2 linked regions of the Homo sapiens genome follow. The protein of the gene in region 2 interacts with the protein of the main gene of each other region in a biochemical or structural test. Each region holds a gene or a part of one and is shown on either strand. Other genes may lie near its edges. The genes, in order: OCIAD1 and ATF7.

Region 1 (11,398 bases), on a different chromosome or scaffold from region 2:
CTAGTAGTTTTACTATATCATACGTCTTGATTTACTTTGACCTATCTAGTGATAGTTTCTAATACTTAATATGTAATGTTTTTGATACAGGAAAGATGAATGGGAGGGCTGATTTTCGAGAGCCGAATGCAGAGGTTCCAAGACCAATTCCCCGTAACTATCTATTAAGTATTTATAATTAGAAGCACTTCCTATGTAAAGGAATTTTCACTGCCTTGAGTAACAGTGGCAGGTGGGCTGGCTTCATGGGCATGTGCAGACAGCGCCCCATACTTGGTTTCATGTTCTAGTCTTGTTATCTTGAAATTCATAATCATTTGGATAAGGAGTCCCACGTTTTTATTTTGCACTGGGCCCAGCACATTAGGTAGCCAGTCCTGACTAGCAGATAGTAGCATTAATTCTATTTGAAGTCAAAGTTTGTTGAAAGTGTATAAGTGGCCTGGCTCGGTGGCTCATGCCTGTAATCCCAGCACTTTGGGAGGCTGAGATGGGTGGAACACCTGAGGTCAGGAGTTCGAGACTAGCCTGGCTAACATGGTGAAACCCCGTATCTACTAAAATACAAAAAATTAGCCTGGCGTGGTGATGGGTGCCTGTAATCCCAGCTACTCGGAAGGCTGAGGCAGGAGAATCGCTTGAACCCCGGGAGGTGGAGGTTGCAGTGAGCCGAGATCGCGCCATTGCACTCCAGCCTGGGCAACAAGAGTGAAACACTGTCTCAAAAAACAAAAAAAGTGCATAAGCCAGTTGTTTTATTATTTGAGTTTAAAAAATGGGTGCCTCTTGTTAATGTTTAGGCTAAGATAATTTTTCAGACCTAGTTTTATTATGGATAATTTAATGTTTTCTGATTTTCCCTGGTAAAAAGACATAGGGCCTGATTACATTCCAACAGAGGAAGAAAGGAGAGTCTTCGCAGAATGCAATGATGAAAGCTTCTGGTTCAGATGTGAGTTCAATTTTCTAATTAATATAATTTGATCCAAAATTTGTACCTGAAATTTTGACTTGAATTTGAACCTGAAATTATAATAACTCCGTATAGAACAAATTGGCAAACTTTTTGCATAGTGTGGTTGTTGTTAAAAGAGATTAAGGAGATAAAGGAATTGCACACATTTTAAAGTAATTATTTCCAGATTTTTAACAAAACCATGAGGTAATTTTGTTGATAATAGTAATAGTTAGCATTTACTGTGTGTACATAGATTATATAAAAACAACCCAATAAGGTTGATAACTATTATTACCCTCACTTTACAGGTGAAGGAATTGAGGTTTAGAGATGTTAAATGGCAACACTTAGTGTTACACAGGTGATAAATTACGATGTTTGGAGTTGAAAACAGGTCTGTCTGAAACAGATTTTACTCTTAATGCTTTTAACCATTATATAATAGCAGATTAGTTCCCATTTTATCATTGTGAAATGTTGTTATACTACCAGCTCTTGATTTCTGATTAAAGAAATATATATATATTTGTGTATATATATATATCAAGATTGTATTTTTTAAATACAGAGATTGTTGGAAGCAGTATACAAAATATACTCTCACTATTTAACAAAGAATTGGTATTGCTTTACTTGGAAACTGTAGTCCTTTCAGGTAAAAAGGAGGATGAATTTTTTTTTGTTTTTGTTTTTGTTTTTTTGAGATGGAGCTTCGCTCTTGTTGCCCAGGCTGGAGTACAATGGTGTGATCTCAGCTCACTGCAACTTCTGCCTCCTGGGTTCAAGCGATTCTCCTGCCTCAGCCTCCTGAGTAGCTGGGATTACAGGCATGTGCAACCATGCCCAGCAAATTTTTCTATTTCTAGTAGAAGCGGGATTTCACCATGTTGGCCAGGCTGGTCTTGAACTCCTGACCTTAGGTGATCTGCCTTGGCCTCCCAAAGTGCTGGGATTATAGGCGTGAGCCACCATGCCTGGCAAATTTTTTTTTAAAAAAGGCAACTTGGCACGGTGCCTCATGGCTATAATTGCAGCACTTTGGGAGGCTGAGGCAGGAGGATTGCTTGAGCCCAGAAGTTCAAGACCAGCGTGGGCAACATAGAGGGGCCTTGTCTCTACCAAAAATGAAAGAAATTAGCTGGGTGTGGTGATACGTAGCTGTAATCGCAACCATTTGGGAGGCTGAGGCTGAGGTAGGAGGATCCCTTGAGCTGGGTACATAGAGGCTGCTGCAGTGAGCTATGATCACATCACTGCATTCCAGCCTGGGTGACAGAGCCAGACCCTGTCTCAAAGAAAAGAAAAAAAGGGCAACTTAAGCCATTAAGGAGGATGTATGTTTTCATCAGTCAGCCTGATATGTATGCTTAAAATGTGCAAGGTACCTGTTGGGAAGATAAGTTTTATGAAAGACAGACTTTGTCCTGAATTAATTTTCTTTTTTGTTTGTTTGTTTTTGTTTTTGAGACGGAGTCTCACTCTCTTCCCCAGGCTGGAGTGCAGTGGTGTGATCTCTGCTCACGTCAACATCCTTCTCCTGGGTTCAAGTGATTCTCCTGCCACAGTGTCCTGAGTATCTGGGACTACAGGCGTGCGCCACCATGCCCGGCTAATTTTTGTATTTTCAGTAGAGACTGGGTTTCACTATGTTGGCCAGGCTGATCTCGAACTCCTGACCTCAGTTGATTCACCTGCCTTGGCCTCCGAAAGTGCTGGGATTACAGGTGTGAGCCACTGCGCCTGGCCCTGAAGTAGTTTTATATGTGGTGAGACAAAGCTAATACATGAAACACTTAGAGATTAAGTGTGTAACTGCAGAAGACTTTTTAAAGAGATAAATTAATTAGAATTGACTTACTGAAATTGAAAAATTTGAATAACTTTTGAGATTTTAAAACTCAAAATTTTCTCAAAATTTTACCAAATTTCAATTTGGTAAAAACTGAAGCCTCTTACAATTTTACAGTTGTGTTTTTCTGTAACATAAGGTGGAATACCTGAGTTGGAAAAAGACCTTTATTTGTTAAGCAAACAATACTTTAACAACTTTATAATAGTACTGTAGGCCAGGTATGGTGGCTCACACCTGTAATCCCAGCACCTTGGTTTTGTTTTGTTTTTTATTTTTGTAGATACTAGGTTTTGCCATGTTGCCCAGGCTAATCTTGAACCCCTGAGTTCAAGCGATCTGCCTGCCTTGGCCTCCCCAAATGGTGGAATTTCAAGCATGAGCCACTGAACCTGGCCCCAGCACATTGGGTGGTTGAGGCAGGAGGATCGCCTGAGACCAGGAGTTTGAGACCAGCCTTGGCAACATAGTGAGACCCTGTCCCTAATCCCCCAACAACAACAACAAAAGAATTAATAGTTAATAAGTAGATAAGTGAAGAGGAAAGGTGGAGTAGCATTTGGAAGAAAGGAGTAGTGAACAAAGGCAGAGTTTGCAATAACTTCATCTCTGCTGGAGCGGTGAGCCTGAATTGATTGGAACAGAGGTCTTTCATTGAGGATAGAACGTAAAACATAGTAATGAGTTAAAGGTTTGATCCATTATATCGTTTAGGTTCTTGAGCAGAGGGGGGTGATATGTAAGGTTTTTTTTAAGGAAGGTTAGTTAACAGTGTGCAAGATGGGTAGAAGGGTGAGAAGTTGTACTTGGTAAAATCTGTTTTGAGCTTTTGGCAGTAACTTAGGCATATATATGTAGTCAACGATGAGATATAGTTGATTAGTGTGTCATTTGGACTGGAAAAGATGAGCTGGCAACGAAAGACTTTTTAAAGGACAAATAAAAGGATTTTTTAAAAAGTTCGACTAAGGGGGAATGAAGGAATGGTAAGAGGGAGGTAATAGCTTTAAGATAACCAGCTTAGGAGACTCAATGATACCTCTGAATAAAAGGTTCATTTAGAAGGAGTTCTTGTTTGAAGATGAGTTTAGTTCAGACGTTTTGAGTTCATGGTGCAACATTCGATTGTCGAAGATTTCTAAGCAACTACAGATAGAAACAAAAGCATACATGAAAAATTAGTTTATTGTGGAGTTGTGTTGGTGAATTCGCCAATAAATTAAGTGTAGAGATAAAAGCATAAAACTGATAATAGTTTCTGCCCTGTGATTAATACTTAGGATTGATAGAATAAAGGATAAAGTTTGGATAGTACCCATGGATAAGGGAACAAGTGATAGTGAAAGAATCAACAAAGACCAAGAGCAGTTAGGAAGATAGAGGAGCTCTGATAGAATCTTTGTCATTTTATCCACCAATATTCAGAGACTTGCAGGTATTTCAAGCTAGAAAGAACCTGAATAAGAATTAGGTGATGATGTCCATTTTAAATTTATGATGACTATGCATCTAAAACAGTTATTCTCAACTGGGAGCAGAATAACTGGAACGAGTTGAGAATAATTGTTATAGATGCATAGTCATCATAAAGTAAGGGCTTCTATAAAATTTTCATGGCTCATTAGAATGGGAATAATTTCTTTCTTTTTTTTTGAGACGGAGTCTCGCTCTATCCCCCAGGCTGGAGTACGGTGGTGCAATCTTGGCTCACTGCAAGCTCCGCCTCCTGGGTTCATACCATTCTCCTGCCTCAGCCTCCCGAGTAGCTGGGATTACAGGCGCCTGCCACCATACCTGGCTATTTTTTTTTGTATTTTTACTAGAGATGGGGTTTCACCGTGTTAACCAGGATGGTCTCCATCTCCTGACCTTGTGATCCACCTGCCTCGGCCTCCCAAAGTGCTGGGATTACAGACGTAAGCCATCGTTTTTTTTTTTTTGTTTTTTTTTCTTTTTTCGGTGTTCTTTTTTTTGTGACTGGGTTTCACTCTTGTTGCCCAGGCTGGAATGCAATGGCACAGTCTTGGCTCACTGCAACCCCTGCCTCCTGGGTTCAAGCAATTCTCCTGCCTCAGCTTCCCAAGTAGCTGGGCTTATAGGCGCCTGCCACCATGCTCAGCTAATTTTTGTATTTTTGGTAGAGAAGGAGTTTCACCATGTTGGCCAGGCTGGTCTCGAGCTCCTGACCTTGTGATCTGCCCACCTCGGCCTCACAAAGTTCTGGGATTACAAGCATGAGCCACTGTGCCTGGCCAGAATGGGAAGAATTTCTTAGAGAACTTGGCTGTATACTCCAGCAACAGTTCTTTTTTTTTTTTTTTTTTTTAAATCTTTGAAGATTATATAGAGTAGATAGGATAAAATGATCTATTTTTAAGTCTTGATGACACAGGATTAAGAAAAAGGCAAGTGTGATAGAGGGGATTTGGGATTATTGTAGTGTTGGGCTAACGGTTAAATAGATGCTAAGGTGTCCAGATTTATTTCTGGCTGATAAATGTATGCTGCTGCAGGTGTTTAACAATCTAAATAGCTGTGACAGGTTTATGCCAAAAGTACATTAAAGGGTAGTGAACAATGTCAGGATGCCCGTGTATACCAGACTCTTAATAGTGGGACATGTGGTATATGAACAGTACAAAGCTAAGTGATTTCTGTGCATTAAAACAGATAAATCACAGGTTGAAAAGACAAAAAGCGGCTGGGCTTGGTGGCTCACACCTGTAATCCCAGCACTTTGGGAGGCTGAGGCAGGCAGATCACCTGAGGTCAGGAGTTCGAGACCAGCCTGACCTATATGGTGAAACCCCGTCTCTACTAAGAATACAAAAATTAGCTGAGCATGGTGGCAGGTGCCTGTAATTCCAGCTACTCGAGAGGCTGAGACAGGAGAATCGCTTGAACCCGGGAGGCAGAGGTTGCAGCAAGCCAAGATCGTGCCACTGCACTCCAGCCTGGGCGACAGAGCGAGACTCCATCTCAAAAAAAAAAAAAAAGACAAAAAGCATGTGATAAGGACAGGCTGAAAGACAGCTTGTTAATTTTATACCATATCTACATTACTGAGAAATTACAGCAGCCAAAAAATTACTGTATTAATAGGTAGCATTTCACTCTCAAAACAGATAACCAAGGTGTTGTTGCATATTATAGCATCAAACATTGAAATGTAGAAGCTTGGTTGTAACCAGGTGATAGGAAGTTCAACGTATAATTATCAGAAGGATGATAATCATACATAGGAAATTTTGTACTTTAACATTTGTACTTTCGAATTAGATAGTCTATGCTGTATGTGACATTTATGTAAACAAATAATGGCATCTGTTACTTTGGAGAGTATCACCTTGGATTAGAAAAAGGTGATAAAAGCATTTACGAATTTATAAAAAAGCACTTACTAAGGTAATTTTTTATACATTTTTTAGGTCTGTTAAAATACTTATCCTCTTCTAAAATTAGACTTGTTGATCTAGGGACCATTCTCTTTCCTTAAGATAACTATGTTTCTATACTGACCTACATTCCATTAATCTGAAATATAACTATGAAGGCATCTTATTTCTAGGTGCTTAAAATCGTGACCCTATGCACTGACCTAAAATCACTATGTCTGTGCCCAAACACACAGGTAGTGAAGACCCTGTGCATATAGGGTCAGTTTATTGCATATTCATGTTAAAATAGTTCTCAAACTCCAGAATTACTAAAAAGATGTATCAGTTCATATTTGTATCAGCTGGAGTCTATGAATAATATTTCATATATGTGTACTACTAGTTTTCAAATGATACAGTATAAGAGTGATAAGAGTATGGGCCAGGCATGGTGGCTCACACCTGTAATCCCAGCATTTTGAGAGGCCGAGGTGGGTGGATCACTTGAGGTCAAGAGTTCAAGACCAGCCTGGCTAACATGGTGAAACCCTGTCTCTACTAAAAATACAAAAATTAGCCAGGTGTGGTGGCACATGCCTGTAGTCCCAGCTTCTTGGGAGGCTGAGGCAGGAGAATGGCTTGAACTCGGGAGGCAGAGGTTGCATTGAGTCAGGATTGTGACATTGCACTCCAGCCTGGGTGACAAAGCGAGACTTCATCTCAAAAAAAAAAAAAAAAGAGTATGGACTCTGAGGCCTGATTGGCTGGATTCAAATCCCAGCTCCACACACAGTAGCTGTGAGATTTTGGACAAGTTCCTGAGGTCTGTGCTATACTTTTCTTATCTATAAAATGGGGATAACTGCCTAGCTCATGAAATTATTATAGGGATTAATGCAATTTAATTAAGTGTTGGCTATCTTTATTAAATAGCTATTAGTGTTATTATGATTAATGAAATAAAAATTTTTATTGACTACAGTTAGGAATATAGAGTAGCTTTTTGTTACTGTGAGGGGAGAAGAGTTCAAATAATTGTAGGGATTCTTGTATATATTGAATATAGTTTGGGACTGTGGTAATAATGTGCACTAGGTTTTGGTCAGCAGTATTACTGATTTGCCTATAGAGACAGATTATTTAACAAAATAGATATTACATACTGTAGTGGAAAAGGCCACTGACTAGGGAGTCAGGAGACTTGGGTTCTGATCTCAGCATTACCACAAACTAACCAGCTGTGTTGCTTTGAGCAAATGACTTGTCTTTTCTGGATATTAGTGTACTCAGATTGGAATGAGGACTAGATAATCTCTGAAGCCTCTTTCAGTCTTACCATTGTCTTTTTCTGTGACATAAAGTAGAATACCTGAGTTGGAATGAGACCTTAGGTCTAATCCATTATTCCTTTATAGCATGAGAAGAAGCTATGCAAAGACATTGTGGTGAATGGCAGAACTAGTACTAGAATCTCCTCGAACAGACTATTACTCTGCATTAAATGGGGAAAGCATTATCCATTGTAGAAATGGCCAGCTAACTCATTGCCTTTTATTCTTATATGATTCTTCAGTGCTTCATGTTGCAATCCTTGAGTCAAGCTGGAGAAAAATGATTGCAAATTGTACTGGTGCTGTAATTAAAAGGGATTTGTCCTTTGCAAAACCTTAAATGATAAATGATAATGCATGAAGGCATTCTAACTAGCCAACATTAAAGAAACCATATTTCCAGCAAAGGTAAAATCTGTTAGTAAGTAGGATAGCATGAATTCAGACCTTAGCGTTTGTGCAATTTGTGTGTGATGGCAAAGTTAATGCCCTATTCCAAAGTGATGGATTTTAATCATGAAATCTGTAATAATTCAAATGTCTTAATTACTTTGGTTCTTAAATTGTCCATATATGGTTTAGACCAGAGTTGAACAAACTAGCCCATGGACCAAATCTGTTTTTGTATGCATGAGCTAAGAATTGTTTTTACATTTTTAAATGGTTAAGAGGCTGGGTGCAGTGGCTCACGCCTGTAATCCCAGCACTTTGGGAGGCTGAGGTGGGCTGATTACTTGAACCAAGGAGATCGAGACCAGCCTGGGCAACTTGGCGAAACCTCATCTCTACAAAAAAAAAAAAAAAAAAGAAAAAAGACAAAAAATTAGCCAGGCATGGCGGTGCATGCCTGTAGTCCCAACCACTTGGGAGGCTGAAGCAGGAGGATCATCTGAGCCGGCAGGTTGAGGCTGCAGTGAGATGAGATTGTACCACTGCATTCCAGCCTTGGTGATAGAGTGAGACTTTGTCTAAAAACATAAAATAAGATAAAATGGTTAAGAAATCAAAGGAAAAGAATATTTCATTACGTGTGAAATTACATGAAATTCATATGTTTGCATCTAAAAATAAAGTTTTGTTGGAACACAGCTACGTTCATGTGTTTTTGGATTGTCTTTCGGTGCTTTTGCTTTAAAACGGCAATTGAGTAACTGGGACAGAGATTGGCCCACAAAACCCAAAATATTTACCATCTGGCTCTTCATAGAACGTGTTTGCCAACCTCAGGTCTGGAACAGCACTGTCCAGTGTGGCAGCCAGTAGTCACATGTAGCAATTTAACTTTAAAATAACTTGCAGTGAAAGGATATAAAGCAAAATCATAAAAGGAAAGGGAGCATGGGGTGAAGTCCGGCGGAAACCAGGTCCCAAGAGTTCTCTTCCCAGGGAGTGTAAATTTCTCCAACAGCTAGTCATAACAATGTGTGAAGTTGTATCTACCCGGGGAACTCATTAGAGACTCAGTGCCCACAGTTTTTATTGGGGGCTGGTCACTTATTCACCCTCTGCCTAACAGGTACCAAAATTCCAGACTCCTAGAATGAAAGCAGATGTTTGGCATGAACTGTATTTGTACAAACAGTTTGGGCACAGTGAGCCAATTACGCATATCAATGGGGGGAACTGTTTACCAGTCAAGTACCAAGACCAAATTGATCACAGGGTTGGTCACTCAAAGACCAACTTCCATTATCATAAAAAATTCTGTTAGACAGTGCTGGTGTAAAGAACAGTGATTCATAGCTGTTTTTAAGTTATAGCCCCCTTTGAGATTATGAGTTTTGGATTTTTCACTCTCGGTTTTAGGCATATATATATATAGATGTAATATTTTCATATAGTTTAAGGAGTTCACTAGTTTAGAAGAAAGAACATAAGTGTTTAAAATATGTGCTTTTTAATTTTTGCCCCAGCCACCGTATGATTACGGTCAAATATGTTTTGTATTTTGGTTTAGATGGTATACTAGAGCTTAAAAGCTTGAGATCTGGTATCAGACAGATTTTATTAGAATCTGTAACCAACCATTCAACTAGTTGTTTGGCCTTGAGCAAATTACTTAACATCTCTAAGCTTCAGTTTCCTTATCTTTAAAAGGGTGGTAATAACATTATCTACCTTATAGAAATATGATAAAAAGTATAATAAATGAGATAATGCACATAAGGCGCTTAGCATGATGCACAGAATTTAGTCATTACTCAGTAGTGGTTCTTACTTGTAACTTGTTTCTTACCTCTCCTTCATTAACTTTTTCCCCTTCTCTTACTTCAGAAGTAATTTTGAGTCACTTTTACTGTGTTGTCTTAGTTGATGCTGTTGATGAACAGCTGGCTATTTGGAACCTAAGCCTAGATGGTTCATGAATTATATTGTTTAATATTTTGTGATGTTTTCTTAAATTTAAAATGCTCCTTTAATTTTTCCACTATGTATACAGTACAGCTTTTAAAAATGGAACAGTCTTTTTTAAAGGTCTTAGTTATGCAATATAATTCCTAGATGGTTTTACTGCTATTCATTTATCTAATGAACTTTAGACAAAATCTTTTACTTTTGTTGATGTTAACAAGGTCTTTTTCTTCCTATAGCTGTGCCTTTGGCTGCAACAAGTATGTTGATTACTCAAGGATTAATTAGTAAAGGTAAATATTTAAAATTTGAATTTATTTAGCATTTTGGATACCATGTTTGTTTTGTGGTATTTTCCAGGTCTTTAGAAAAAGTAAAGATAACAATGTATCATATTAAACACTATGTAGAAATTCATTGATGAATTTAAACGTTTTATCTCTGTGGACCCACTGGCTCAAATATCATGACTTGAGAATTTCTCCTGCACTAATAGCATCATTAACAATCTGCAAGAGCAAGAAGGTAACTAAACACCAGTATTAGCAGGGCAAACCTGGTCTAGGTGGGCCAATAGCAACATTATTGCCTAGGAGCTTGTTAGAATGCACATTCATGGGGACCAGGAGTCTGTGTTTTAACAAATTCGAAGTGATTCTTATATAATGATTTAAAGATCAGTAGCTCTCTAAACCAGCTTTGTCTGATCACCTGGGGCGGATGAGTGGCGGTGAGTTAGCATTATTTAAAAAATCAGAATCTCAGGGGTCTGGCAGGTGATCTATTTTTAACGAGCCACCGAGGAGACTTTCTTGTCCTAAAGTCTATTGGCTCAAATAGTACAGTAGTGGAATTGAGTTTAGATTGAGTATTAAATGTCTTGAGTCCTGCATTTAAAATGTAGTGGAGTAAGCAGTAGAGTTGCTTAATTCCTTTACTTCATGAACTATCTATCTGGTAATGGGAAGGTGTCCCAGAAAAGGATGGTGACCTTAGGATGGCCTGGAGGCCTATTGTTTTAATTAACTGGCTCCTTCAAAAATGTGACTTAATGATTGGAAGATTTAGCCTTTTCACATTAGGATATGATGTATGGTACTTAGTTTTGACACAATTAGTTGATAAAAGTAGTTTTGGAGGCAAATGAGAGGATTTTTGGGGTAAAAATTTATTTAAGGAACTTCTGAAGAACTTCATTACAATACAGTACCATGACAAAAATCTTAAACATAGAAGCGAGTCAAGATGTATGCACTTATATGTCCTTAAGACTAAGCTGTTTTATAGACTGAGATTGGTTCTGTATTGTGAAACAACAACAACAACAACAACAAAACAAAAAAAACCCCACTTGAATTACATTCTTTGTAGGAAAAACTGGCACAGGGATGAAATTACAGTGTTTATTATTGTTCTGCTTCTTTTATCTATTTTAATCCAGTGTGTCATTTAATAATGATTGGAGCTAGGTATGCAGAAGGTTACACAAAAGAATTTAATAGCTGCTAGTAGTTCACTGGAGGAAACAAAT
Region 2 (11,227 bases):
TGTAATCCATTCAATAAAACAGCTTGCATAGAACAGGTATCCTCAAAACGTTAGCTGTGATTGCCTCATGTGCCCCAGTCGGGGAACTTACCATCTCCTCAGACAGTCTTCGGACATATTTATCCTTGTGCCGAGGGGGCTTTGGGCTTCCTGTGACTTCTACTCGGGGTCTTAGTTTGCTCCATTAAGTCTCAACAGAACATCTCATCTCTTTCATGTGTAAAAGCTCTTCATATTTTTGAAGAGAGAGTTCATTCTTACACTCCAGCTTTTTTTTTTTTTTTTTTACGATGGAGTCTGGCTCTGTCACCCAGGCTGGAGTGCAGTGGTGCGATCTCGGCTCACCGCAACCCCTCTGCCTCCCGGGTTCAGGCGATTCTCCTGCCTCAGCCTCCCAAGTAGCTGGGATTACAGGCACACACCACTATGCCCGGCTAATTTTTGTATTTTTAGTAGAGATGGGGTTTCACCATGTTGGCCAGGCTGGTCTTGAACTCCTGACCTCAAGCAATCCACCCACCTTGGCATCCCAAAGTGTTGGGATTACAGGCGTGAGCCACCGCACCTGGCCCACTCCATAGTCTTTTTTGCTCAAGGGGAAGCACCCCACTCTTTAAGGCAAGGCATCTAGGAACCAACTTATCCTTTAGACACGTAGATTAGAGCAGGTTTGGATCTGGATGCTCCAGATACCATATTTCTGTTAATGCGGACTAAGCCAGGGTAAACCTTTTCGTAAGCTTTGTCTCATGGTTGGTCCCAACCACAAAACCTGACATTCATCATCATGGTATCTTGTAGTTTTATCTTTTTTTTTTTTTTGAGACGGAGTTTTGCTCTTGTTGCCCAGGCTGGAGTGCAATGGCTTGATCTCGGCTCACCACAACATCTGCCTCCCAGGTTCAAGTGATTCTCCTGCCTCAACCTCCCGAGTAGCTGGGATTACAGGCATGCACCACCGCGCCTGGCTAGTTTTGTATTTTTAGTAGAGATGGGGTTTCTCCATGTTGGTCAGGCTGGTCTTGAACTCCCGACCTCAGGTGATCCGCCCGCCTGGGACTCCCAAAGTTTTGGGATTACAGGCATGAGCCATTGCACCCGGCCAGTTTACCACTTCTTAAAAGGGAGTATCAAGGCCACGGGGAGATGGCTTTTCTGTGGGCAGTAGCTGCTGCATCCCAGAATGATCCTTGTCTGCTCCTGTGTGACAGAGGTCCAGAGGAGCAGCGGTGTGAGGGTGGATGGGACACTGCAGAGCTGGTTCTGGGCCAGACAGAACTCAGTTGTAATCCTAGCTCTTGCACTTCACTGTGTGACTTGGCTAAACCTCAATTTATCATCAATAAAATGAAGTGACTACTCCTGTTATCACTAGGTGAACAGTAAAGCAATCTACCATTCCACGTAGCATAGGGCAGCCATTCCATGTTTACCATCCTGCTGCTTCTAGTATTTCTCTAAACATCAATTACAAGTGGCTCTGGGCTGAGCTGCATTCAGAAAGAGGCTGGTTTAGCTGGCTTCCTGTGTCCAGGATGGAGGTAACTGGTCTCCTTTGAAGTTGGAATGGGTTGATTCCTCTAATTTTGTAAACTGCCCAGTTTTCAGAGTGCAGCTTCAGTGGTGGGAACCTCCAAAACCTCATAATCTGGGCTTTGGTATTTGGCTTTCAGCAATTTCCTTTCTTACCCTTCTCTGGACACCCATGTGCTCCTGGCCACAACACAGTGAAGACCACCACTGCCTTTCCTGCTCTCCTCAGGAGGCACAGGCTATTTGTGTCAAGTGTCTACCAAACACCAGCCACAGATAGCTTCTTAAGTCATTTCTCTCCTACTGGGAAACTCCAGAGACACCTGCTATCTCTTTTGTCAAATTCTTCAGCCTGGCTCATTGTTCTCATTTGTGATGTTATTTATAAAGGAATATACAGATGCAATAAATTATCTGTGATTTCCCTACACCTCTTCCTGATTCCCACAGTCTCTGAGCATTACCTGTTTTTCTTGTGAACTCTTACCTGCTTTTTTTGAGATGGAGTTTCACTCTTGTTGCCCAGGCTGGAGTGCAACGGCACGATCTTAGCTTACTGCAACCTCTGCCTCCCAGGTTCAAGTGATTCTCCTGCCTCAGCCTCCTGAGTAGCTGGGATTACAGGCGCCCGCCACCAACACCTGGCTAATTTTTGTATTTTTAGTAGAGACGGGGTTTCTCCATGTTGGCCAGGCTGGTCTCAAACTCCTGACCTCAGGTGATCAACCCGCCTCAGCCTCCCAAAGTGCTGGGATTACAGGCATGAGCCACCATGCCCGGTTTTCTTACCTGCTTCTAAGTAAACTCTACCCCTCATTTCCAGACCAGCCTCCTCCTTACCATAGAAAGCTATACTTTCCGTCTTTGTCTGTGTGTGTGCTCCCTGGTCACAACAGCCACTTTTTAATGGTTGGGTGGGGGTTGGCAACAAAACACTGAAAAGTAAAAGGCCATTTGCCATCAGCAACTCTCCCACCCGCCATCCACATAAAGCACATACTAAGTTTCCTGTGAGTACTTGCTGCCAGGATGCCAAGGGCCCTTGTCTCCAAGGCAGTCCACAGGAGCTCTGCCCTGGGCCTTCTGTCATACTTTGTAATTTATAGAAATCATCCACTTTCTCTAGGCTGTATCTCCCATGTATAAAAACTAGAGACAAAAATCCCTGTTCCTTCTGTCCTAAGAAATGGGGGAGTGATGAAGATGACAGACATGAAAGGCCAGTGACCTCCCAGAAAAGGGGACAATGGGGGCTGTGGATAGAGGAGTGAAGCATCAGACATAACAGTGGTTCACTTGATAGTTTAATGTTATATTTGCAGCATAAATAAGGCACAATATATGCCAGGGCAAGGGAGGGAGGGAGAAGGCATAGCTGGGGGGATAACTGCTAAGTGGCAAGGGGGAAAGGAAGACAGTATGGTTAGGGAGAATAGAGCGAAGCCCCTGCCTCAGCCCAGTCCCAGGAGATTGTGAGAACCAGCTCACAGGGATCATGCTGAATCAGGTGGAGGGGAAAAGGGAAAAGACAGTTTTGTAACAAAAAACAAAATAGCCTGCAGCACTGCATCCTCCTACCTGTCAAAGGCCACCACTGGGCACTGGGGAGACCCAGACCGAGTTGAGTTCCTTGATAAGATGGAGAGGTGTTGCTACATGTCAAAAATATATAGATGAACAGAGATATAATCATAGATACACACTGCTTCCTTTTCAATAGATACTATGTTAGGATGTGGCAGCCTCCACTCTTGGGGCTGGAAGCTCATCTCCTCCCTGCCTGAAAGGTGTGTGTGTTGTAGGGGGAGGAATGGGACAGCTGAAGCTTGGCTGGTCCTTACTGTAACAGAGAACATGGAGTGACCAGTCTGCAAGGGAATATGGGACAACTCCTGTCCAGACCAATGCATGGTTTTAGGGATACGACTAAAATGAAGACAAATCTAGCTTTTGAGATCAGTGATATGATGGGGAAGACTTTAAAGGGAATGGAGGAAGAGACTGAAAGAAATGAAAGCATGTTAGTGCAAAGGCAAAAGATGTATTTGAAATATCCTCCACACCTGTAAAAATTTCCCAGCTTATCCCTAAGAAATGGTTCTCAACCTTTAGTGTGCATTAGAATCACTTGGAGTGCTTTTAAACCCTGCCCCCAGAGTCTGTGATTCAATAAGTCTGGGATGGGGCCTGAGAATGTGTATTTCTAACAAGTTCCCAGATTACTGTGGCACTGCCCTAAGGTAAAGTCAGTGAAACTATTGCTCATAGCCACTTCTTACAGCTAAAACATCACTCACCAGTAGCTACTGCTGGTGAGATAACTCTGTGCTATTAGCCCCCCATTAAAAAAATAAACCCTAGTAGCTATGATACAAACCTACATCTACAGAGGACATAAGCTCCTTTAACCTGCCCTACTCTCCCCAGCCTTTTCTCATTCTGGGGTAGGACTTTACCCCAAAGAGAGACAACACAGCTGATGCAGACGGTGGTAATGGTGGCCAGCAGCCACCTACGCTCATTCCTGCTAGGTAACCACCTTGGTATGGGGTGGGGGAATTTATGTCTGTATGCACATTTGTGTGTACAAACAGACACAGAGAAATCAGTCCTGTACTATGAGAGGGATGACTAGAGTTATGGGAGGCTGTAGTGGGGTGGAGGGAGTCCTTTAATCTGCCTTAGGATCCCCACCTTTCCTGTTCTTCCAGACACCCCCACCCCCGTCAAACATTAAGTCTAAAGAAAGCAGAAAGAGCATATCAACAAGGCATATGTGATATAGCTAGGAAGACTGGAATCTAAACAGGCTGGTTATGAAATTTAAAAAAAATAATGTATTTCCTTCCTGTGTATATAATGTACAATATTAATGAAAAATTAATGATTTGGGGATGGGAAGGAAGTTATGAAAAAAGGAGAAAACTGGCGGGGATAGCTGTATCAGGGGCTAGCACCTTTAAGGAGCCTCTCAGTGTGGAGCAGGGGAGCCCCAGAAACCACAGGAAGAATTTTTTTGGTGTCTGTTTGGTGGTTCAGGCTGTACATAGGGCACGGTTGGGGTTAAGCACTCCATCTACCAGGATGGGTGGTGCTAGAGGGCAGTGAATCAAGAAAGGAGCCAAAACCAACAGAACAGGGATAGAGAAGTGAGCGAGAGGAGGTTCAGTTTGCTCAGTCCCTCTTTAACCACTACTTAGAGTACATGGTCTAATGCTTAGGGCCAAGGAGGGAGGTGAAGGCTAAGGAAGTCAGATTTGAGATGCATAACCAGCAGCAAAAGAGTAAGTAAAGGGGGCATGACTTTTTTTTTGTTGGCCTCTCTAGTATTGTGGGAGGCTTTCTTAGACTTTTCAACTCTAAGCAAACTTTCTGTTAGGGGAATGGGGCAGAAAGTGAGCAGACCAGAAGACCTGGTTCTGTCCCCTCCCTCTGTGGCCTTGGGTACGTGGCAGCTAGCTAGAGTGCTTGTGTATCGAGCACTCACATTGGAGTGGGGTGGGAAGCCTGAGTCCTGTATTCACATGAACGAATTCAGGACACCCACCATACACTCAGCTCCTTTCTGAAAGTGTCCTCCCTTAGGCCTCTAGAAACGCCATGGACTTTAGGAAGGGCCAAGTGACACCTTCCATGATGTTTGGTTCTGGTCCAGATGGATCTGGAAGACAAAGATTTGGGGAGAGTGACCACATGGCTGGTAGCAATAACAAGGTAAGTGAAGTTACCTTTGACTATCAGAGAAGTTTCAGGGCAGCAATTATTCTGCCTCCTTAGTGAGACTGAGAACCAACTCAAGAACTATCTAGGGGGTTCTGACCTGCTGCTTCCTTATTTCAGTGCCATTTTGTTACTGTGGTTCTGGCAGTGCTCCTCACTGAGGTCCCGTACACATCTTCCCACTGATAAAAATGAAGTTAGGACTAGATAATTAGTCATGGGGGCTAAGAAATAAAAAAGACCCGCTACATAAATTAGCCACCCAACACAGGGACAGACTGGCAGGGCATGTATGCAGTTACAAATTAATTCTTAACTGTAAAAACACTTGACTGAAGGGGGAAGAAAAATAGTCAAGAGTCTTAGGAAAGCTCCTTAGGAGCCATAAACTCAGTCAAGCTTTAGGGCAAGGCTGCTACTGGGAAATCAAGACAATAAAAAAATGAAACAAAACTCTAAAGCAGGAGAAAATCCCAGGGAGCAGCCAGCTAAAGGGGAAGTCCTGAGCACAAGTTACGGCTGTGAATTTTTAAAGGCAAAAGTGAAGTCCCTGGATGTGGTAACCTGCGTCCTGACCATCTGCCATAACATTTGCTAGTCTGAATCACTTCAGGGCCTATTCCTGTTGGGTACCTGATGGTAGAGGATGAGAAAACCGTGTTTTCTCTCCTTTGTCTTTAGGGGTGTGGCCTGTTCAGCACCAGCTCTGAAAAGCAGGAGGGGAAATTTAAAACAAATGCAGCAGAACCTGTTACCTGACTGGTTCACTAGGACAGGATATCACTTTAAGGAAACGGGAATCTTGTAGCTTAGAACATTTTCTCATTCCCCTGTGACAGTCAATTTTGGAGACAAAATAAGAAAGGAAGCTGGCAGTTATTTTGTATGTATGTTTAAGATGGAGGTAGGAAAGATGGAGAGAAGGACATTCTTGGCTTGCACAGATGGCAGAAAGTGGCTCTGGGACAACTGGAAGGGTTTCATACGGAAAGGCAATTAAAGCTGACCTATCTATCCACAGGCCTCTGGCTCTGAATTGCTTCCTATGGTCCTGGTAGAAACTGCATAGTTCAGAGCCAAGGGGAGATGAGAAGCCTTAACGTGGAAGAGGGACAAGAGAGATGAATTGCTCCCTCTGCAACCCAACTCTTCAAAGTAAGAATGGTTGAGAGCAATAGTCACCAATTTCCCAGGCCAGAACCTGGGGTCCTTTGCTGGGACCAGTTCTGCACTTTCCCTCTCCTCTTCCTCCCTCCTTTCAATCTTATACTCAAGTAAACCCACTCAGCATCTTGGCTATGACGCTTCAAGATCCTGGAGCACTGCATGTAAAGAGAAGAGAGAAGAAATGGGTTGAAGAAACTCTGGAGGACCTGGAAGACCTAGTGGCTAAGCTAGGAACCTGGTGAAAGAGAAAGAAGATAGTCCAGACGGTGATGGGCACTTGTGAACAGAAGACTCTAGCTCAGAAAAGCAGACAGATGTGTGAGGGGGAGAGATGGGGTAGAACAAAGGAACTCGAGAGTCCCCTACATGACAGCCTCCAGGAGGGCTGAGTCTGAAGTAGTTACAGAAGAGAGACAGGGGCGGTAATGTTGATAGGGGAATGAAGAGAGAGAAGCAGGAGCAGAAAAATGACCAAAGATGACAATATGCTTTGGCCGGTAAACTCTTATAAAACATAAAGGAATCGATTAATCCCTAACTTGATGGAACAAGCTTTGAAATACTTTGTTCCTGTCTGCCCTGATGGTTAAACTAAAGAAGGAGGGAGGGGAGGAGACAGAATCAGCCAGTCAGATTCTGGGCCCTTCCCTTTTCACTACCAAGCAATCTTTAATAATAAGGCCACAAAATGAGGTTGCCAAGGCTTAGTGGGGTGGTGGGAAAGACCCCACCACTACACTAAAGTCAAGGGACAAAATGAGGTACCCAAATAGCTCTGCAAATAGATGAAAAAGAATTAGAACTCTTGAGGGTTTCTTTCTTTTTGGTGGCAGGTAGAGAGAAGGAATAAAGCTTATGGAAAAACTGGAAAATACTGCTACTTCATACATCAAAGGTAACCTTACATTCTCCGTAAGTGAATGTTTTAACTAGAATTAAGGAAGAGGAAAAAGGAAACGGGTAAATAAGCAGCTATGGGAGACCTGAGTCCTGAGTCCATGGGGTGGCTGGGGCTGGGTCAGCGGGTAATATGTCATCAAATCTAGCCTCCCTCTATCTGGCAGGAAGTGGCATGCTGGTAAGGAACAAAAAGGTAACAGCCACGGCTTAGTGGGAAGAGAGGGAACTGAGAAACCCCAAACCTAGAAGTGCCAAGGGTTAGTGTTAAAAGAGACAGATACACGTGCATGGGGCAGGGGTGATTGTTCGGACCATCTGGAAAGGCCTTTGGCTGTGGATGCATCAGAAACCCCACCCTGGGGGATGATCTATGAGGCTCCGGGGCTGGGAGGCCCCCAGCACAGGTGTCAAACGTACATGACCACATGGCTAAAAAGCCCCATATCTGTCCATTACTCACAACACACAATTCCCCCCACCCATATTGCCATGTCCAAGGCAGATGGGAGGGGATAAGATGACATCTCTCTTGGCTCTTGGGCGGGCGAGCTCTGGCTGAGGACCTCTCCACCAGAGGAGGCATCATCTGCCCGCAGACTGGGACTGTGGGGTCATGATTACATGCGATTGTATCGGCATGCTCAGTTCTGTCCTTTGGCTGGCCATCTGAGTGAGGACCGAGGTGGCCACAGCTTCAGCTGCAGAGCGAACACTGAGGCCATTGCTAGGGGCTGTTGCTGAGCTGTGCTGAATCACAGGGGCTGGAGAACCCGTTGGCTCTGAGCTTTCCTTGGGGCTTTCTGCCAGGAAGGAGGGCAAAGAGCAGAGAGCAATTGGTTAGAAAACAGAATGGGGAAAGAGGCAGGACTACCTTTTGCCATAATTCTAAAGGAGCCCAAAAGGGAAATGAAACCCATCTTTTTTTTGGGGAAAACTTCCCAGAATCCTGGCTTCTAAGTCATAAATGGGCTAGGAAATGGGAAGTTGTAAGAAGGGAAGAACTAGGCCAAAATTAACCTATCTATTCCAATAAAATGAATCTCCAACATGTTAATTACACTGTCTGGTTTCTAGGTCTTTGCATAGTTCATTACCAACTCTTATTATTATTCATTACTTCTATTCTTTCTTGTTTTTAAGAGATAGGGTCTCAAGTGATCCTCCTGCCTTGGCCTCTCAAAGTGCTGGGATTATAGGCATGAGCCACTGCGCCTGGCCTTCATTTCTTTAAAGATGATTTAAAATAGATCTCTTTTTAGCCATCCTCTTTGATTAATTCTCACAGGAACTGAATTATTCCATTATTTTATTTATTTATTTTTTTTCCTAAGACTGAGTCTTGCTCTGTTGCCCAGGCTGGAGTGCAGTGGTGCAATCTCAGCTCATTGCAACCTCTGCCATCCAGGTTCAAGTGATTCTCGTGCCTCAGCCTTCCGAGTAGCTGGGACTACAGGTGCACACTGCCACACCTGGCTAATTTTTGAATTTTTAGTAGAGATGGGGTTTTGCCACGTTAGCTAGGCTGGTCTCAAACTCCTGACCTCAAGTGATTGGCCTGCCTTGGCCTCCCAAAGTGCTGGGATTATAGGCGTGAGCCACTGTGGCAGGCCTATTCCATTATTTTTAATGTTCCTTTACCATGTAGTTGTACCACAGGTAAGTCTGATAGATATCAAGCTATAATTAAATGATATTATGAATGGCCAGTCCCTGGCCCGGGTTCAGTTAACATGTAAAACTACAAAGAAATCTTAAGACCCTCCTGACTAAAAATTAGCTAGGCATTAATGATTATAAAACATTATAAGTTATGCCACTCCACCTAAAGTGACACTAACATTTTACTACTAAACACAACTACCTGAGCTACATACAATGGTAACTCCATGTTGCTCATTAGTCAAATGTTTTTAAAATTTTTTTAGAGGGTCTCACTCTGTCACCCAGGCTGGAGGTGCCATGGCACAATCACAGCTCACAGCAGCCTTCAACTGCTGGCCTCAAGCCATCCTCCTGCTTCAGACTCCCAAATTGCCGGGATTACAGGTATGAGTCATCACACTCAGCAAGTCAAGGAGTTTTATTAAACATCGGATAGCCTCTATGGCTGCTTAAACAGAAATATGTGGAAAAAAGGCAAACGTTCCATAGTCAGTTGTATTTCTGACATCCTGATGAATGCCTGAGTCTTCTTTTAAGATTCAAATATGGCCGGGCGCAGTGGCTCACGCCTGTAATCCCAGCACTTTCAGAGGCCAAGCTGGGCGGATCAGGAGGTCAGGAGATCGAGACTACCCTGGCTAACATGGTGAAACCCCGTCTCTACTCAAAAAAAAAAAAAACCAAAAAATTAGCTGGGCATGGTGGCGGGCGCCTGTTGTCCCAGCTACTTGGGAGACTGAGGCAGGAGAATGGTGTGAACCCGGGAGGCAGAGCTTGCAGTGAGCCGAGATTGTGCCACTGCACTCCAGCCTGGGCAACAGAGCGAGACTCCGTCTCAAAAAAAAAAAAAAAAAGATTCAAATATTGCGTCCTCTGTGAAGCCATCTTTGTTACCCTCAGTACATTAACTGTTTTATTCTTTGTGTTTTCACAGCATATATTCATCAAACATTTTACTGAGCATCATCCATGTACCAGGCATGGGTACACAGAGAAGAAAACGGGAACCCTATCCTTAGGAAGCTCCCAGTTTAGGGGCTTTTTAACTGGGATATCTATCCTTACCTCATCCACAGGTTTATATGACCCTATGATTCTCTCAGAGGTAGTGACAGTGTCTTATTCATCATGTGTCAGGTACTTACATAATATCTATACCACACAGCAGGAACTAAATACATCTTTGCTATAATGAATATGTAAGGCCGGGTGCGGTGGCTCACACCTGTAATCCTAGCACTTTGGGAGACAGAGGTGGGCAGATCACATGAAGCCAAGAATTGGAGACTAGCCTGGGGAACATGGTGAAACCCCGTCTCTACTAAAAATACAAAAATGAGCTGGGCGTGGTGGTGCCCGCCTGTAGTCCCAGCTACTCGGGAGGCTGAGGCAGGAGAAAAAAAAAGAATAAGTAGTTTAATGGATTAACTATGTATCAGAGTTCTTGCAGGGACTAAGTGGAAAACTGACCGTATATAGATTATATACTGATAAACAGTCCTTATCCTCTTTAGCCCATCAACAGGATTTGTTTTTTTGGTATTTTTTTAGACAGAGTCTTGCTCTATCACCCAGGCTGGAGTGCAGTGGCACTATTTTGGCTCACTGCAATCTCTGCCTCCTGGGTTCAAGCGATTCTCCTGCCTCAGCTTCCCAACTAGGTGGGACTACAGATGCACGCCACCATGCCTGGCTGATTTTTTTTATTTTTAGTAGAGATGGGGTTTCACCGTGTTAGCCAGGATGGTCTCGATCTCCTGACCTCGTGATCCGCCCGCCTCAGCCTCCCAAAGTGCTGGGATTACAGGCGTGAGCCACCGAGCAACAGGATTTAAAATCACTGAACTTCTTGAAACACTTTTTTATTTTGATTTACAGAATACCACATTTGGCTCTGTAGCTGGTTTTCCTCCTCACTTCCTGGTTGTTTCTTCTCAGTCTCTTGTGGGTTCTTTCTCATTTCTATGAACTGTAAATGTTGGAGTACCCCATGGTTCATTCCTGGGACTTCTCTTTTTCTAGCTCTGCTGTCTCCCTTGGGAACTTCATCTGGTTTCAATGCTTTAAAAACTAACTATGGCCAGGTGTGGTGACTCACACATGTAATTCCAGCACTTTGGGAGGCCAAGGCGGGCAGATCCCTTAAGTCCTGGAGTCTGAGACCAGCCTGGCCAATATGGCAAAACATCATCTCTAAAATAACAAAAAAAAATTAGCTGGGCATGGTGGTGCACGCCTGTGGTCC

What was found.
Region 1: the proteins of ATF7 (region 2) and OCIAD1 form a complex in vitro, tested with the Homo sapiens proteins (one study listed by BioGRID).

The regions. Positions count from the first base shown.
Region 1 is NC_000004.12:48,832,530-48,843,927, forward strand, and holds part of OCIAD1 (OCIA domain-containing protein 1), read left to right. Parts: intron 1-90; coding exon of another isoform or gene 91-95; coding exon 96-153; intron 154-871; coding exon 872-952; intron 953-10,106; coding exon 10,107-10,160; intron 10,161-11,398. UniProt on the Homo sapiens protein: Maintains stem cell potency. Increases STAT3 phosphorylation and controls ERK phosphorylation. May act as a scaffold, increasing STAT3 recruitment onto endosomes. Involved in integrin-mediated cancer cell adhesion and colony formation in ovarian cancer.
Region 2 is NC_000012.12:53,509,235-53,520,461, forward strand, and holds the end of ATF7 (cyclic AMP-dependent transcription factor ATF-7), read right to left. Parts: intron 8,375-11,227; exon of another isoform or gene 8,121-8,374; coding exon 7,903-8,120; 3' UTR 2,820-7,902; downstream 1-2,819. UniProt on the Homo sapiens protein: Stress-responsive chromatin regulator that plays a role in various biological processes including innate immunological memory, adipocyte differentiation or telomerase regulation.